3 linked regions of the Homo sapiens genome follow. The protein of the gene in region 1 interacts with the protein of each later gene in a pairwise test. Each region holds a gene or a part of one and is shown in the gene's direction. Other genes may lie near its edges.

Region 1 (3,174 bases):
TTTTCCCAGAATGAAGGGTTTGACGTAGGATGTAGACTTTGTATAGTAGTTGGGAGAGCTGTGGGAGTGAAGGTCAGGGATGTCACCTACAGAAGTCAGGGAATCTGCCACCAGAGATCCTGCATCAGAAACAGCCAACAGCGTGCTTCTGAAGAACTAGTGGGGAAGTGGCTATAATTCTTAGGAATCCCAGCAAGTCTGCACCACTGTCTCAGTCTACAGCAGTGGAGAAAGGGGTTTCCAGGAGCTCTCTGGAAAGTTCCTGCCCACACTTTGCAACAATCTTCAGAGGATAATGGCTTCTCTTCCAGCTTCCACACCCAACAAGAGTGCCTTTCATCGGCCAACTCTAACCTGGAACCCTATGGCAGAGGGGATTTTAGAAGACAGTTTGTAATGTCTGTGGAATGCAGATGAAGAGGTAGCAATGCTTAGTTGACAGCGGACAATACACAAATATAGAAACCGAATCTGATTCTAGAGGGGCCTACTGAGATCAGCACTGATGTCGTAGCTCCTTTTGTCATTCTGAAGCTTTATATTTTAAGTCCGATAAATAGCAATTTAAGGTTCAGTGAAGGTGGCTTACAAGTCCTTTTATGGAAATTTCTAGTTGTTTCAATAGCCAATAGTCAGCCCTCACAGCATTACCAGGACCTTTTCACTGGAGATATGTTTCTTTTTTGAACAACATTGGAAGCTGGGGCCTTTTTCTTCTGTCTTTCCAAGGGTTCCATAATACTTTGAGGAAATTTTAAATCTCAATTAACATTTCTTAATGCTTTAAATCTATAGCTCAAGAAAGTGGCTGTCAACTAGGGGCATGTTGCCCCCACAGGATATTTGGCATTACCTGGAGACATTTTTGGCTGTCACAGCTGGATGGGAAGGTGCTACTGGCATCTGGTGGATAGAGATCAGAGGTGCTGCTGAATGTGCTCTAGTGCATAGGACAGCCACATGCAACAAAGAATTATCTGGCTCAAAGTGTCAGTAGCCTGAGGTCGAGAAGCCTTGCTAGTGTAATAGGAGGAAAGAGCGTGTGTTGACTGTGGGGAGTCAGGTCTAGATTTGAATCTCGGCTCTGCCACATAAGAGCCAAGAGATCTTGGACAATTTGCATTACATTGCTGAGCTTCAGTTTCTCCCATTTTATACTTTGCATAATTGTTAAGGACATTGGAGATAGCACCTGGCACATAGTACAAGTGCTCAATAAATAGTAATTTTTTGGTGGTTTGCTACTGTTGTTACATAAATCCTTGTTTTATTAATGCTATAAACTGTCCATTGTTTTTAGGCAGCCCCTAATGGACCTGCATGGTGTTGGTGGCTTCTTGCAGTTCTCCCTGTAGACCCACGATACCAGCTGTCGGTTTTGTCAATGAAGTCTTTGAAAGAACGGTTGACCAAGATACAGCATATACTGACCTATTTTTCTAGAGACCAATCTAAGTAACTAACTCTTTGGATCTCCCTTTAAAGTGACCCTAATCTGGCTGCATTGATGGCCAGATTGTCTGCTGCCTTTGCACATCTAGTGCTGGTTTCAGAAATTTAATGAAACTTTTCTTTTTCCTTCGACCTCCTGAATCATGTGGTTCTGCAAATGAATACCTTCAACTAGGATTTAGACCACTAAGAACTTGCACAGAAAAACACGCATTGAATGTGTGTCGAACCTCTACATTGTGAAGTTGCACTATGTACCATACTCTAAAATGAAATAAGAACTCTTTATGTCTGTGAGAGAGTGTGTGTGTGTGTGTGCGTGCGTGTGTGCTTGTGGGGGTTGGGTAGTGTGTGTGTATTTTCTCTGGCTTTAAAATTTTAAAACAAACAAACAAAAAAGCCATAGAGAGCAGAACTTGCCGAGGGTCATTTATTGCCCAAGTTTACAAGAGTAGCGATACAAGTTTTTGCAAATTGAATTTGCCTCAGATATATCTGTCCTAATGCTTATATTTGCACAAGTATGTAAAATATCGTGTTGAGGATCATTCTTTGTTGGAAACACTGCTCTTGCTGAACTGTCTTGACCATTGACTATGACACAGTTTCTTATTTATGTAAATACTTGCATCACAGTGGCCGACAGGCATTGGATGCAGAACCTAGAGCCAGTTTTCAGGAACAATTGTAAACCTGACATGGTACTGTGCATCTATTCATAAAACACTCAAAACTGTGAAAATATGGTTTACATTTAATTGTACATAAAGGTAAAGGGAGAACTCAATTCAGTACCAGTTAGTTTGTACATTTTAGGGGGCTTTTCACATTAACTGCCCATTTGTGTAATTTATAGTTTGACATGATGTGTTTGTTTTAAAAAAAAATGCATAGTATAAACCCATTAAGGATCTGGGAAAAGAGAAGAAGTTTAATATAGAACTAAGCTTTTAAAGTTTGTTTTTGTTTTTAATTCTGGTCTCGGTGCAAATGTTAGTTATGCCTTATTCATATCACAGTTAGATCACCATGCTGCAACATGGTTTATATTCATGCTGCCCTAGAAACTTTTGTAATTATTTGTTGCAAATTTGTGACTGTCCTTATTAACTTTCTTTTATGTAAGTAATTTGTAAAAGTTTCTTAAAATTTTTGCTTTTGCTTATTTAATTTTGAATAAAAGCTAAATTCCTAATACTTTTTCTTAAATTGTAGGTCAGTGTTATAAAAACAAGTCAGTAGAAGAACCAAACTGCATATGTTAAAGAACAGATGAGTTTTGCTTATGGTTTGGTGGCATTAGATATATGCTATGGTTTCCAAAAACTTTGGCCATTTTTATTTTTTGAGAAAAAAAAAGCAATTTATTGAGGGTTTAGGCCTCGGAACCATCCCTAAAGCACTATTTTTCAACCTTTTAAAAATCCATGTCCCTTTAGGGTAAGGCTAAAATTCTTTCTTTGATGCCTCACCATTTGAGACTTCTCTTGGTTACACAGACTGGACTGTTTCTGCCCCCAGTTCCTCAGCTAGGATTTTGCAAATGTCAGTCAATCATCTTTTTTTTTTTAGAGACAGGATCTTGCTCTATGGCCAAGGCTGGAATGCAGTAGCACAATCATAACTTGCTGCAGCCTCAAACTCCTGGGCTCAAGTGATTTTCCTGTCACAGGATCCTTGGGGTGGCACTTTGCCAGCCAGAAATGTCTGTGGCCGGTGGTG
Region 2 (7,053 bases), about 13 Mb from region 1:
GATCTATTTTGTGGGTATTTCTGGCATGTTTTCATTATCTATAAGGACAATTATTATTTTAACACTTTTGTATTAACATTTGATCAGTCTTTTTGTATTGCTCATTTTTATATGAAATTAGTTTTTCTTAACTTGAAAAGAGGGCTGACAGGACAGTTTTTCCAATTTCATGGCTCTAGAGTTCCCTTTTCTGTTGTTTTTGTGAAGTGTTTAAAATACACAGAACTCATTTTCTGATATATTCTGGTCTATTAAACCTCTTAACTTTCATCTGCAGTCCTTTTTTTTTTTTGTCTCTGTTGTCTTTGTTGCATTCAACTTGGATTATTTTCCCAGCATCTTATCAGTATGGGGCTTTGTCCATGGAAGGGAGTTTTGGCCATTTGGTTTTAAGAGTTTATTTTCAGCCCTATAAGATCTTACTGCAAACTACTTGCATCACCCACTTTTGGGATGATCTCAATCTGTTGTTTTCAGCTAGACTTATTAAGCAATGAAGTCAGTATCTATGGATGGCTTTAACATTCATGGGTTCATCATATACCCTGTTGCTTCTCTCTGCTTTTTCTTTCACAGGCGCTGAAAGCATGCTGCTCTTATAGCTGTTGGTATTGGTGGGACTACCTTATCACCTAGTGTTGTTTTAGATGCAGTCTGTGGGTTTGGGTATTGCTGTCCTAGTAGCTCTGGTATGCTTTTATTATGTGTGTATTCAGTTTAAAAAATTATGCCATTACCATCTTCCCAGAATCCCCAATCTTAATATTTGTATTATTTTCTACATGTCATCTCTAGATCCTCAGACAGATTCTAAGCCTCCTGAGGGATTGTTAGGATTCCACACAGACTGGCTGACATTAAATGTTGGAGGGCGGTACTTTACAACTACACGGTAGGTGTGTGTGTATGTGTGTTAGAAAGAGAATGCAAAAGAAGCACTGTGTACCCTTTGTTCTTCAATTTGCTGATTTCCTTAAAAGATACTCAAATGCTGCTTAAATATACTATGTGATCTGAAACCATTTTTTATAACTTTTTTTGAAGAAAAAAACATGGTTCACTCCAGAGAAAGCATAAAAGGCATCACTTCAGTGTTTTAGAACATGCTTTTGGCTGGGCGCGGTGGCTCACGCCTGTAATCCCAGCACTTTGGGAGGCCGAGGCGGGCGGATCACGAGGTCAGGAGATCGAGACCATCCCGGCTAAAATGGTGAAACCCCGTCTCTACTAAAAATACAAAAAATTAGCCGGGCGTAGTGGCGGGCGCCTGTAGTCCCAGCTACTTGGGAGGCTGAGGCAGGAGAATGGCGTGAACCCGGGAGGCGGAGCTTGCAGTGAGCCGAGATCCTGCCACTGCACTCCAGCCTGGGTGACAGAGTGAGACTCCTTCTCAAAAAAAAAAAAAAAAACATGCTTTTTAGATATTGAGTAATAAACACACAATATAAGTAAAAATTAACACTACTGAAATTTGTGGAGACTACAACTGCTTTTATTAAAGGGCAGAAAAATGTAAGTTTGGAAGATCAAGAATATTATTATGTAATAATTTGCTTACAGGATAGACAGACAAGTATTTAAAGCAAAGGAAACTAAAACAATGTTTAAATCAAAGGAAGTACCCTATTAGAAGGGATCTGATAAATGGCAACTTACTGCACGTTTTTGTTTCCCAGCGTTACTCCTACCAGGTTGTAGCATGCATCTTTTTGAGAGAGCAGCTGGGATCGAGTATACTCTTGACTTAAATATGTTTGTTTATAAAGACAAATGGAGAAATCAATTTTTTTCCCTGAATTCTTAGGAGCACTTTAGTGAATAAAGAACCTGACAGTATGCTGGCCCACATGTTTAAGGACAAAGGTGAGTGTAACACGTTGTTTTCACATTTCATCTTACCTGTTTTATATCTGTGCTGACTTTATAACTCCTGACCTTCTGTACTTACTAATTATGTCAGTTTTTAAGAGTAAAAACTTATATTTAGCAATTTTTTCCTCATACATTTCTGACTTTATTTTTTGTTTATGGGGGACTTTCTTTATTATAATGGTGACACAGGTGTCTGGGGAAATAAGCAAGATCATAGAGGAGCTTTCTTAATTGACCGAAGTCCTGAGTACTTCGAACCCATTTTGAACTACTTGCGTCATGGACAGCTCATTGTAAATGATGGCATTAATTTATTGGGTGAGTTTATTTAGACTTTCAATATAATTATGTAACTACTCACATTTTTGTAAGTTTAAGATTTTAACTTTGTTTCACTCAGTAACAGTATATTTCCATAAAGTAAAAGTATATATTTTTTCTATTTTTTAAACTAGATGTTTTCACATGTATATGAGTGATATAGGTGTAGAAATAGATTTAGGCACGGGCAGGTGGTCCTTCAGGTAGATAGTCTTTGTACATATAGCTAAATATGTAAGCCATACGCATCAACTTTATATTCTAAATTGATTTACGTTCTATCACAAGTGACTTTAAAGGATTTTGTTGTTTCCTTTTTTAAAAATTGAATTAAGAATGTAACTTGGCTCCAAGTTCTGGATATTCCCCACATTATGTGAGAACTAGAGTAGTCAAGAGGGCAAATCATGCCTTGCAATCATAATTCTCAATTAGAGTCTTGATTCTACAACTTGCTAACTTAGGGAGACTAACTTGGGGAAATTTCTCTGAGTCATATTGGAAAAATGAGTGTTAAAAGCACTCTTGACCCTATCTACATCACAAGATTTTTGTGAAGATTCACGGAGGTGATGTAGACAAAGCCCTTATAAAACACTGGTTGCATATTTGGAAGCTAATAGGCCTCCAAGTGACTGAAGTTGATGTGATGTTAGTACTTGAGGAATGGTAGGCAGTTGGCAATCTTGAGGTCACATGCCTGTCAGCTTCAGCAGATCATTGCCATGTGCAAAGTGGTCAGACGTAGAGTGCCAGAACCTTGGTTTTTAAAGAAAACCTGGGTATCTAAAATTTTATGTGACATGTTTTTGTTTTGAAAACATTACATGCTGAACACATCAGAATCAGCCTGAGGACTGCTGGCTTACAGTTTCTGTAGTGAAATACAAAACACCCATTAACTTTTAGTGTTGCTATAACAAACTTTATATTCCCTTGAACATGTACCTATTGCAAAAAAAAAAAAAAAAGATATTATTTGACCCTTTTAGCTAGTTCTATAACTTTATAACTAAATTCTTGTTGCTTTCTATTTCTCCCATTTTAATTTTTCTTCAAATTATTGATAGCATTTTGTATCCCACTTGCCTAGAAAATGTCAGAAATATATTTATCCATGCTGTGTCACACATCTGCAAACCAAGCTATTACCAAGATTTGCTAGTTTTTTCTTTTTCATGTTTCTCAACCATTTATTTGTTCAAGTGTTCAAAAAGCAGAGCTCTCTGCTGGATTCATTTTATAAAGCATTGTTTTCAGTTAGTACAGTTTCCATCCAAACTCTTTACATTGCCTACAGGTTGCCCCAAGTAATTATATGCTTTAAAACAATCTACAGTAATTTCACTAACACCAAAAAGTAGTGAGTGGCAGAGCTGGGATTCAAATCCAGATTTTTTTTTTTTTTTTTTTTTTTTTTTTTTTTTTGAGACAGGGTCTCGCTCTGTCACCCAGGCTGGAGTGCAATGGTGTGATCTCTGCTCACTGCAACCTATGCCTCCTGGGTTCAAGTGATTCTCCTGCCTCAACTTCCCAAGTAGATGGGATTACAGGCACACACCATGATGCCCAGCTAATATTTGTATTTTTTTTGTTTTGAGATGGAGTCTTGCTGTGTCACCCAGGCTGGAGTGCAGTGGCGCGATCTCGGCTCACTGTAAGGTCCGCCTCCTGGATTCACGCCATTCTCCTGCCTCAGCTTCCCGAGTAGCTGGGACTACAGGCACCTGCCACCACGCCTGGCTAATTTTTTGTATTTTTAGTAGAGACAGGGTTTCACCATGTGTTGGCCAGGCTGGTCTCGAACTCCTGACCTCAAGTGATCTACCCACCTCAGCCTCCCAAAGTGCTGGGATTACAGGTGTGAGCCCGGCCTGTCTTTTGTATTTCTATGGCTTCTCTGGATGTTTTAAAGGTTTAATTCTAAACCTAGAATTGGAAACGTATCCTGGCTGCATTCCCTAAGAGTTCTGCTTTACTTAGACCTTGGCAAATTGAGAGCGTGGCCCACAAGAACCTCTTTTATAATATGTTGAGTTTCCACCAGGGATATATATCCGAACGGAATGGCATAATCTTTGGATGCCTCTTGAAGGGGAAATGTGGACCCTGTATGCCAGAGTGGTAGCCCGATGCTGTACCTTGGATGACGTTTGTTTTACAATTGGATTGTTGACCATAGAGTTTGGTCTTCACAGAAAAGATTGTATTATTCTTCCCAAATAACTGCTTCTGGTTTTCTGTATCTACTTACCCTTATTAGCTTGTAAGTGTTTGAAGGGAGGGATTATGTCTGATACTTTCTTTGTAATTCCAGAGTTCTAAGTAGTTTTTTACTGAGTCAACAGCCAACTGATTGAGGTCTTCTCATTTGAAAGATAATGGAACCCAAATGTATTCCCACACATTCTGATGATGTTTATTAACAGATTAGAATAAGTAAATATACCAAGTCATGTAAAGGATGTACATTTTTTTTTACCAAGTTAAAGTAAATGATAAATGAAAGCTCTTTTAGTATTTACAAATATTTTAAAATTTATTCTCCTATAAGACAGATTTCTGAATTATACTTTTGACTTTTTTGTACTTTTTAAACTTTTATTCATTTCTATCATTTTCTGATTCAGTATGTAAAAGATACTTGTGGCAAACCTGTTCAGATCTGCTCCATTTAAAAAGGCAATTAAATGTTAAGATTATGTGAACTAATCGTATTTTAGTAAATTCAAAATGAATGTAATACATTCACTAAATTAGGTTGTTTCAGAATTATTTTTGTTCTGATAGGTGTGTTAGAAGAAGCAAGATTTTTTGGTATTGACTCATTGATTGAACACCTAGAAGTGGCAATAAAGGTAAGCCTGTTTTTACATTAGCCAGTGTTACATTCATTGTAGCTATCTCCCAAAAGACTCCACTAATTTCTTAATGTCTTTTTTAAGAATTCTCAACCACCGGAGGATCATTCACCAATATCCCGAAAGGAATTTGTCCGATTTTTGCTAGCAACTCCAACCAAGTCAGAACTGCGATGCCAGGTAATTAGCAGGCTTTTACATCAATTATTTCTATCAGCAAATCTATGAATAAAATTTTACATTCTTCTAGTGTTTTGGGATTATCTTGCTTTGTTTTTCTTTTACATGCAAGATCTAATTTAATTATGAGTCATAGCATTGATTTAGTTCTGAAATGGTTAACGAAAAAGAGATGCAATAATAGCCTTTTTAAATTGTCTAATTATACCTCATGCAACAGTTTATGAATAATGCATAGAAATTGCAGCAGTTTTTTAAAAGTCAGTATTTGTACATTTGCAATATATGGGCTGATCAGTGGCAGGTACTTTACTTATGTGTACTATAGCATTTCAAATTGTAAAGACCACAGTACTCATTTTTGCCTAATAAACTGTTTTGAATTACTGAATTAATAAAATAATTTAAATATAATTAGGTTTAAATACTTATTAGCAGGTATAGGACTAACAGGGATCCCTCTTTAGAAGCTTCTACACAGAAATGAATTATAGCCGGGCTATATTCTAATGTATATATTGATAGAGTTTCTTTTATGAGGAACCTATTTAAGGACACTTCTTTTATGTATCTAAGTTCCATTTTATCATGTTCTGTAATAAACTCCAAGTGACTGAACTGCCAATTGCTTCTAAAAAAAACTTGGTGGTTAGCTATAGTAATTAAATTTAATACAAACAGACGATTTAGTTATGGTGACAATTTGTGCTTTTTTATTTCAGGGTTTGAACTTCAGTGGTGCTGATCTTTCTCGTTTGGACCTTCGATACATTAACTTCAAAATGGCCAATTTAAGCCGCTGTAATCTTGCACATGCAAATCTTTGCTGTGCAAATCTTGAACGAGCTGATCTCTCTGGATCAGTGCTTGACGTAAGTATCATTTTAGGCTACAAGAGAAAATTAAATGTTTAGTCTATTGAACAGTCTCAAAGAGCCTTTGAGACAGGAATTATAACTATCTTTTACTGGAGCTTTTACTTGAAAACAGATAATTTATTATGTTGATATAAGACTAAAGGTCTGAAAGTGAAATGAATTTGGTTTTACAGGTTTGATATCCTTTATTAAACATAGACTTGAAAGGTTTAGTAACTAATAAGAAATTAAATCTTGGAATTAGTTCTTGATCTCCTCAATATACTGTACTTTATTTATCAGGACTCATATTTTCAGCTAATTGTAAAGGTAAAGCTGAAAGGAACCTTGAAATCTATTCAGCCTCATTTCTGGAATGGGAAAATGTTACTGCTCAAGAAGTATTTGACAGATATTTTGAAATAAACATGGTATGCATCAGTTTGTGGAAGTTAACATCTCAGTGGCGTTTTCCCTCTCTCTACATATATGTGTATATTTATATATATGTATATGTATGTATTTATAACAGTTATCTGTGTTTATTTGAAGTTAGAGGATATATGCAGACCAACAATGAAATCTATTAATTTTTAACAACTTTAAGTTCCTTACCACCAAGGCCCGTGTCTGTATGTCTTTTGAATTAATACCATCTTGCTTTTGGTAGTCATTTATTGAATTACTCTAATTTGGGTTTTACTCATTAGCTGCAGCTTATTTTTCCATGAAGCTGTGTATCAGGGCGAGTAACAAAATCTACCAAATATGCATTTTAGTTACTTTCACTGTCCTTTATTCTGTCTTATCATGAAGGGTCAGGTTAGTAGCAAAACAGGAAAAAGACTAACATCAAAAAAACGTTTGAAGGACCTAATCTTTAAATAGTGAAATGTCGAGAGGCATCTTTGTTTGTGTTAAGGACAAAAAAAAAAAGATGTTTGTCAAAAACGCTTTGAGAT
Region 3 (7,053 bases), on another chromosome or scaffold:
GATGGTGGCCTGGGGCCGTCAGGCAGGGGTGTGGAGAGAGGAGGGTGACTCACAGAGACATGAAGGAGGTGACAACAGCAGGGATCAAGGGGCTGCAGCATGTGCTGCGCAGCTCTCAGAGCCCCAGCCTTGCCCTGGTCCAGGCCAGCAGAGGCCCTGCCCAGGTTTCTGACTTGGCGTCTAATGGGAAAAGGAGGAGGAAATGACATTTTGTTTGCAACCGTCCTAGTCATTTTCTCATATGTTGTTTTGTTTTTCCCTCACAAAAGCCCTTTGAGAAAGAGTTATTAACCCCACTTTCTGATAAGGAAACTGAGGCACAGAGATGCTGGATGGCTACTGTCTGGTGGCAGAGCCAAGATTTACTCAGGCCTCTGTGATTCCAAAACCCGAGCAGTTGCCGCATGCCCACCTCCTCTGGGCTCTGGCCACGAGGGTGAACACAAGTCGGGGGCAGGGGCATCAGTGGCTTGGTTTGGCGCAGAGCTTGAGAGGCCCCTAGGGACACCCAGGAGCCTGCTAAGCATCAGATTTGAGTCGGAGAGATGTGAGAATGAGCTATAATGGGTGAAGGGCCCAGAAGGGCTTGGGCTGTGGAGTCCCAGGTCCCTGTTTTTAAGATGTGAGTGAGGCAATAAGAGAAGATTTGGAAAAATCTCAGCACTCCAAGTCTGCCATTTTATCTTACTTTCCCTTGATGCCTAGGAAGTGATCAACGTGTCACCTGGCTATCAACTTGTTCGGAATCGGGAACAGATTTCTGTCACCTTAGGGGATGAGATGTTTGATAGGAAAAAGCGGTGGGAATCGGAGATCCCGGACAAAGGCAGATTTTCCAGGTAATGCTGTTGCAGCAACATGCAGCTGCTTGGGGCTACTCCCACCCAGCTCAGCCCGGCCTCAGGGACAAGCCAAAGCCGCTATGCCCACACCCAGGCCACTGGTCCCTGCTCTGGAGGGGCCGCAAGGGCACCTCCCTCCTCGCCCCTGCTTCCTGATGATGCATCTCTCCACATCTGCCTCTCTGCTCTGATCCCATCCGTGAGCAGATCCAAGGGGCAGGATGAAGATTGGGAGTTATGTGATTGATCCCAAAGGATAGCAATTGTTCGTGGGGTGAGGAATAGATAGAATAGCCATAAATTAGTCTGAATTTGAGGCATGCAAATTAAGTAAAGTGAGGGTTTCTGGGTGGCTGGAGTGCACTTTTTTTTTTGAGACAGAGTCTCTCTCTGCCACCCAGGCTGGAGTTTAGTGGCACGATCTCAGCTCACTGCAACTTCTGCCTCCCAGGTTTAAGCTATTCTCACGCCTCAACCTCTTGAGTAGCTAGGATTACAGGCTTGCACCATGACGCCCGGCTAATATTTATAGCTTTAGTAGAGATGGGATTTTGCCATATTAGCCAGGCTGTTCTCAAACTCCTGACCTCAGGTAATCCTCTGGCCTCAGCCTCCCAAAGTGCTGGGATTATAGGCGTGAGCCACTGCGCCCAGCCTCTTTTTCATTATGTCCAAAAATACTACTCAGCTCATGCCCCCGGGAGATGCAGTGTGGAAGGTTCTGGCCTGACTCTAACCCATTAGCACAGCTGTCCTGTCTGTCTTCAGGCTCCACCCACTCTCTGTCCTCCAATGCCATATCAAGTATATCTCCATGTCTTTCTTTTTTCATTAACAGATGCAGATTCATCTCTACATCTTTTCATTCTACCCTTTAATCTCTTATTCATATCTTCTTCTCTGATATCCTGCCCATGTTCAGGCATCTTACTTCTTAACTGCACTACTGAATGGCTCTCCAAGTGCCTCTTCCCTCAGGCTGATTTTGCTGTAAGAATTATTTTTTCAACACACAAGTCTAAAAGACCAACAATAGAAAACACACACACACATACACACACACACACACACACACACACACACACACAATCATCTACCTATCTGCTAGTGTATTGGCAGAATTCAACCAAACCGTTAGCAGTGGTTACATCTGGGGAAGGGATTCAGGTTGAGGGTGAGTCTGAAGGCCCCTCAAGTAGAATGAGGCCATGCCATGGAGTCTCCCTGATCTGACCTGGCCCAGAGGGCCACCCAGGGGCCAGGGGCATTCACCCTGCTTATCTTGTCTTCCCACCCAGGGGCATTCAGCCTCTGCTTTCTTTTCCCTGCTTATCCACAGCCCTCTGCAGGAAGAGAATGGGTCATGCACCTATAGTCAAGCTAGCACCGACAGCCACCTCTTGGCCTCACAAGGAAGTTGTCACCAGTTGTGCACAATAAAATATGATAACCTGTGCTTGTTGTATTCCCTGGTAAAGTTGTGGGTGTTGTTTGTATTGAAGATTGTGTTCAAAAGATAGGGGCTCCCTATTATTCAACTTTCTCAAGCCTTTTCTTTCTCTTACCCTTGAACTGTCTCCTCCTGTATCTCCTCTCTTGTTTTATCAGCCCACATTCTCTCTGTGCTCAGTTAGACATGCAAAGTGGTTGGCCAAAGAGGTCAAAGCATCTTGCATTGAGGACTTCCTCTCAGCTCCACTGCACATGGCACCACCTGCTGCCTTGTCACTCTAGCCCAACCAGACAGAGCTAAATAATTTACAGATACCATGGCAGCCTTAGACCCAGAAACACAGAAAACCATGACCTGTGCTGAAAGCCACTCTCTTAAATACCCTCTTAGTCCCATCTCTGGCCCAATCCTTGTCTGTGGTTCACAGCCAGCATCAATCCTATTGCACATCTTCTAATTTCCTAATCCTCTGAACTTCGTCCTCTGTTTCAACTATCATTACCAAATCAAGGTCAAACTCTAATAAATTTCTGACATATTCTTATTTTCCTTCTATTCGGTAGGGCACCAAACCATCCTGTTCAAGTCTAGTGAGCTTACCCACAAGAGCCAGATCTGAGCCTCAACTGCCCTATAGCCAAATGCCTTCTGTAAGACCACCCCTATCCCTCCACCCCCACCCCATAATGATAGAGCAGGTGCAGAACATGGCCAGCTCTCACCAGGCCAGCTCTCACCATGCCAGAGTCAGTCATGCTCAGGGGCCTGAATGGCATGGAATGGTAAGCTTTGTGGATGATAGAAGAATTACTTCTCCTACAGGACCAACATCATTTCTGACCTAGAAGAGCAAATCTCAGAGCTGACAGCAATAATTGAACAAATGAACAGAGACCACCAGTCTGCCCAGAAATTGGTGAGTGACCTTACATTAGCTAACATCTTCATGGACAAAATAAAATTAATATTTTTGAATCACCTATGTGCCAGGCAAAATGCCAAGCACTTTACTCATATGAGCCATGTTGTCCAGGTGACAGGACCCTAAAGATTGGACTGTGTCACTCAGTAGTATTTCTCTGACATCTTTATCTGTAATTCCAAGAACTCAAGTTCTTCCACAAAGCTTAACTCATTTATTTCCAGGAGCTCTCCAAGTACCTCTGTGTGTGTGCAGTGACACTGTCCTCCTCACACTAGGGTGCACTTGTTGTTTTCTGTCTGGCCTTTGTGGTGCAATTAAGTTTCAGAGCTTGTGAGGCTCTCACTAACGACACCAGCGCACTTAATGTGCAGGGCTTACTCTCTGACTGTTAAAGCTGCCCACACATCAGAATCTGCAGATGTCATTTGACACTCTTTGTGATTCCTGAGGATTTCAGTGACACCTTTTTAGCTTTTACCATCTGTTTCATCTGGTGACTTCTTCCTCACCTCAAACAGGTGTGCCTGTTGGCCTGGCCTGGAGTGACAGCCAGTGCTGTGTTCAGAAATATCCTCCCCAGGGTTGTTGAACCCCACCCCATCTGTGAAGTTTTACTTCCCAGAAGGCAGCCTCTCACCCTCTGATATGCCCCAGATGTGTCTGAATCCTACAGTGACCCAGCTTATGACTCAGGCTGGGTCCTATCCTGAGACCACCCTCCTCCGCCTGCCAACTATTGATTCATTACCTTATTTATCTGAAAACACTGCCAGGTTTATGGTCTCCTTCTATAGAAAGGAAAATGAGACTCAGGGAAGTTAAACAATTTGCATACAATCTCTCAACTGAACAGTGGTAGATCATTGGACAAAATGAACATTTTAAGTCATAGGCACAGATCCTGCTGAAGACATATTTAGAGACTATTTCCATGAAGGGATCCTAGACTGTGTTACTGAAAATACTGCCACTTGTGAAGATGCTATTTGTTGTGTGGCCCTGTGGAAGGGAGTAGTGTTGGCTGACGCTGGGCTGTTCTCTGTCTGTCAGAGTGGCTCTGCTGACCACTTGTTGTGTGACACAGTCCCTGGCTTCTCCCCAGTAGTCAGAGAGGTACAAGGACAAGCCCTAAACCCTTGTCCTAGCTGACAGTGGTCACCGACTGATTTGAAGTATTGATTTATCCTGAGACACTGGCCAGAGGATCTGACATGTTAGAATGAAGTATCACCTGAAAGTGAGCAAATCCTGCCTGCTAGAATGGAACTATACTGTCAACAAGGATTAACACTAGATTTTAAGTTCCTCGAAGGCAAGATCTGAGTCTTAGTCCTCCTTGGCTCTTCCAAGCCAAGCCTTTTGTTCAATAAATGATTGCTCAATTGGATTACATATCCAAAAATCTGAAGGCCATGATGTAACAGAAATGACGATCTAGCACAGGAGACCAGACCTACCCAAAAAAAATAGTCAGTGAAAGAGATGCACCAACATTATGAACTGAATAAGTACAAAACAACATAGAGCAAGGCACAAATTGTTCTGTTCCCTTATTAATAATGTGCTCTCTGGCACTGCAGAGCACAGTGGAAGAGGGGTGGGAAGGGGGCTGTGCCCCATGAATTGGAAGGCGGCTGTGCCCCATAAATTGGAAGGCTTTTCAGAAGGTGCAGATCAGAATGGGACAGGGTCCTCAGTCCTGTGTTGTAGATGCTGATTTTGTTTCCAGCTCTCCAGTGAAATGGATCTCCGCTGTGCTGAGATGAAACAGAACTTTGAAAACAAGAACAGGTACACTTTCTGGCATGGACCCTTGTGTGTGTTGATGGCTCTAAGGGTCCCGCATCCTTTGCAGGATTTTAGTTCACTGGGACTTCAAATAGTTCTAAATGGAGTTGGGGGATGAAGGGTGGGGGAGATGAACAAGACACGTGTCTTTGAAGAGCAGAATGGCTTGATTCAAAGCCACTAAAATAAACCACAAAGAAAGTTATTACTGCTTTTACATTTTATCATCCAATCCTTTCATTTCAATTATAATCTCCCTTTTTGTTGGTTACTGAGAAGAGTCATTTTTGTTCTCTATGAGATTTCTGTGATAAATAACTGTTGTTCTCAGCCAAGGCTCCTCCTCCACCATCTCCTCGTTCTTCTCTTCCTCCTCCTCTTTTTCTTTGTCTCACCTCTACTCTCCCTGGCTGCTAGGTCAGGGCCTCAGCAAAATAGGAAGAAAGTATAAGAGAATCAGGAGCAAAGTCAAATCAAGAGAAAATTGAAAGGAGTCCAAATACAGAAAGACAGAGAATAGAACATGGTTACCATGGTCCGGTAGGAGGAAGAAAATGGGGAGATATTGATCAAATCATACAATGTTGCAAATATGTAGGGTGAACAAGTTTATATTGTTTACAAAGATATAATGTAAAAAATGAGAGCTATAGTTAATAATAATGTATGATATTAAGAACTGTTGCTAAATGAGTTTATAGCTGTTCTCACCACAGAGGGAAAATGGTTAACTAAGTGAAATGATGGATATGTTAATTTGTTCCACTCTAGTAAACTTTTTACTATATGTATATAGTAATCTCCACTATTATAACCATTTGTGTATATATATATATACATACATATAAACTCTACCTATATATATATGCTTGTGTAGTGTGAGTGTATATATATAGTAAAAATTATGTGTAATATATATAGTATAATGGTTACTATAGTAGAGATGCATATATATATGATTTATATATATATATATATATGAATCTTATGACATCATGTTGTATACCTCAAATATACACAATAAAATTTATTTTTAAAGGAGTTTTCTTATGTGTATGGGTGAAGATAATCCTACATCCCCTTTCAGGCTACTTGCTGCACACCAGAGCAGCCTTAGAAATCCTGGTGGAGAGATAGCACTCTTAGTTGAGTCATAGCCATTTACACATTTATTTATCTATAGACTTTATCTGTTAGAGCAGTTTTAGGTTTACAGCAAAAATGAGGAGAAAGTACAGAGAGTTCCTGTGCACCTGCTCCTAATCAAATTCAATCAAATTAAACTCAAAGATGAGTACACCAAGACACATAATAATCAAACTATCAAAAATCAAAGACAAAGCAAAAATTCTGAGAGCATCAGAAGGTAAGAAACACGTCACATACAAAGGAGTGCCAATACAATTGTAATTTCTTAACAGAAACCCTGCAGGCCAGGAGTCAGTGTGATGATGTATTAAAAGTGCTGAAGGAAAAAACTGCCTACCAAGAATACCTTAGCAAAGCTGTCTTCCCCAGTTGAGGGAGAAATAGAAACTTTCCCAAACAAAAATTAAGGGAGTTCATTACCACTATGCCTGCCTTACAGAAATTGCAAAAGGAAGTTTTAAAAACGGAAACAGAAAGCTGCTAATAACATGAAACATATGAATGCACAACACTCAATGGTATAAGCAAAATAGAGCCATACTCAGAATACTTTAGGACTGTGATGATGGGATGTAAGACAATTTTATCCCAATATGAGAGTAAAAACACAAAACTATTAATAACAACTATAGCTAAAATAAATTTTCAATGATAAATCATATTATAAAATGATATCAATTCTGACATCAAAAACAAAATGTTAGGGAGGGAGTAAAACTGTTGAGTTATTGCTTGCAACTAAACTTGTTGTCAGCTTGAAATAGCTTATTACAAGAACAAGATATTCTAACTAAGTGTCATGGTAACCACAAAGATAAAAATCTTTAGCAGTAGCACAACACAAAAATAGAAATGATTCAAAGCATACACTACAAAAAACATCAAACCACAAAAGA

What was found.
Region 2: the proteins of LONRF1 (region 1) and KCTD9 interact in binary tests that used the Homo sapiens proteins (3 or more experiments, as listed by UniProt).
Region 3: the proteins of LONRF1 (region 1) and FLACC1 interact in binary tests that used the Homo sapiens proteins (3 or more experiments, as listed by UniProt).

The regions. Positions count from the first base shown.
Region 1 is NC_000008.11:12,721,381-12,724,554, reverse strand, and holds the end of LONRF1 (LON peptidase N-terminal domain and RING finger protein 1), read left to right. Parts: intron 1-1,300; coding exon 1,301-1,459; 3' UTR 1,460-2,649; downstream 2,650-3,174.
Region 2 is NC_000008.11:25,434,416-25,441,468, reverse strand, and holds part of KCTD9 (BTB/POZ domain-containing protein KCTD9), read left to right. Parts: intron 1-795; coding exon 796-892; intron 893-1,676; exon of another isoform or gene 1,677-1,804; coding exon 1,805-1,863; intron 1,864-2,061; coding exon 2,062-2,190; intron 2,191-4,983; coding exon 4,984-5,051; intron 5,052-5,138; coding exon 5,139-5,234; intron 5,235-5,956; coding exon 5,957-6,106; intron 6,107-7,053. UniProt on the Homo sapiens protein: Substrate-specific adapter of a BCR (BTB-CUL3-RBX1) E3 ubiquitin-protein ligase complex, which mediates the ubiquitination of target proteins, leading to their degradation by the proteasome.
Region 3 is NC_000002.12:201,340,328-201,347,380, reverse strand, and holds part of FLACC1 (flagellum-associated coiled-coil domain-containing protein 1), read left to right. Parts: intron 1-705; coding exon 706-839; intron 840-3,117; coding exon 3,118-3,211; intron 3,212-4,949; coding exon 4,950-5,011; intron 5,012-7,053.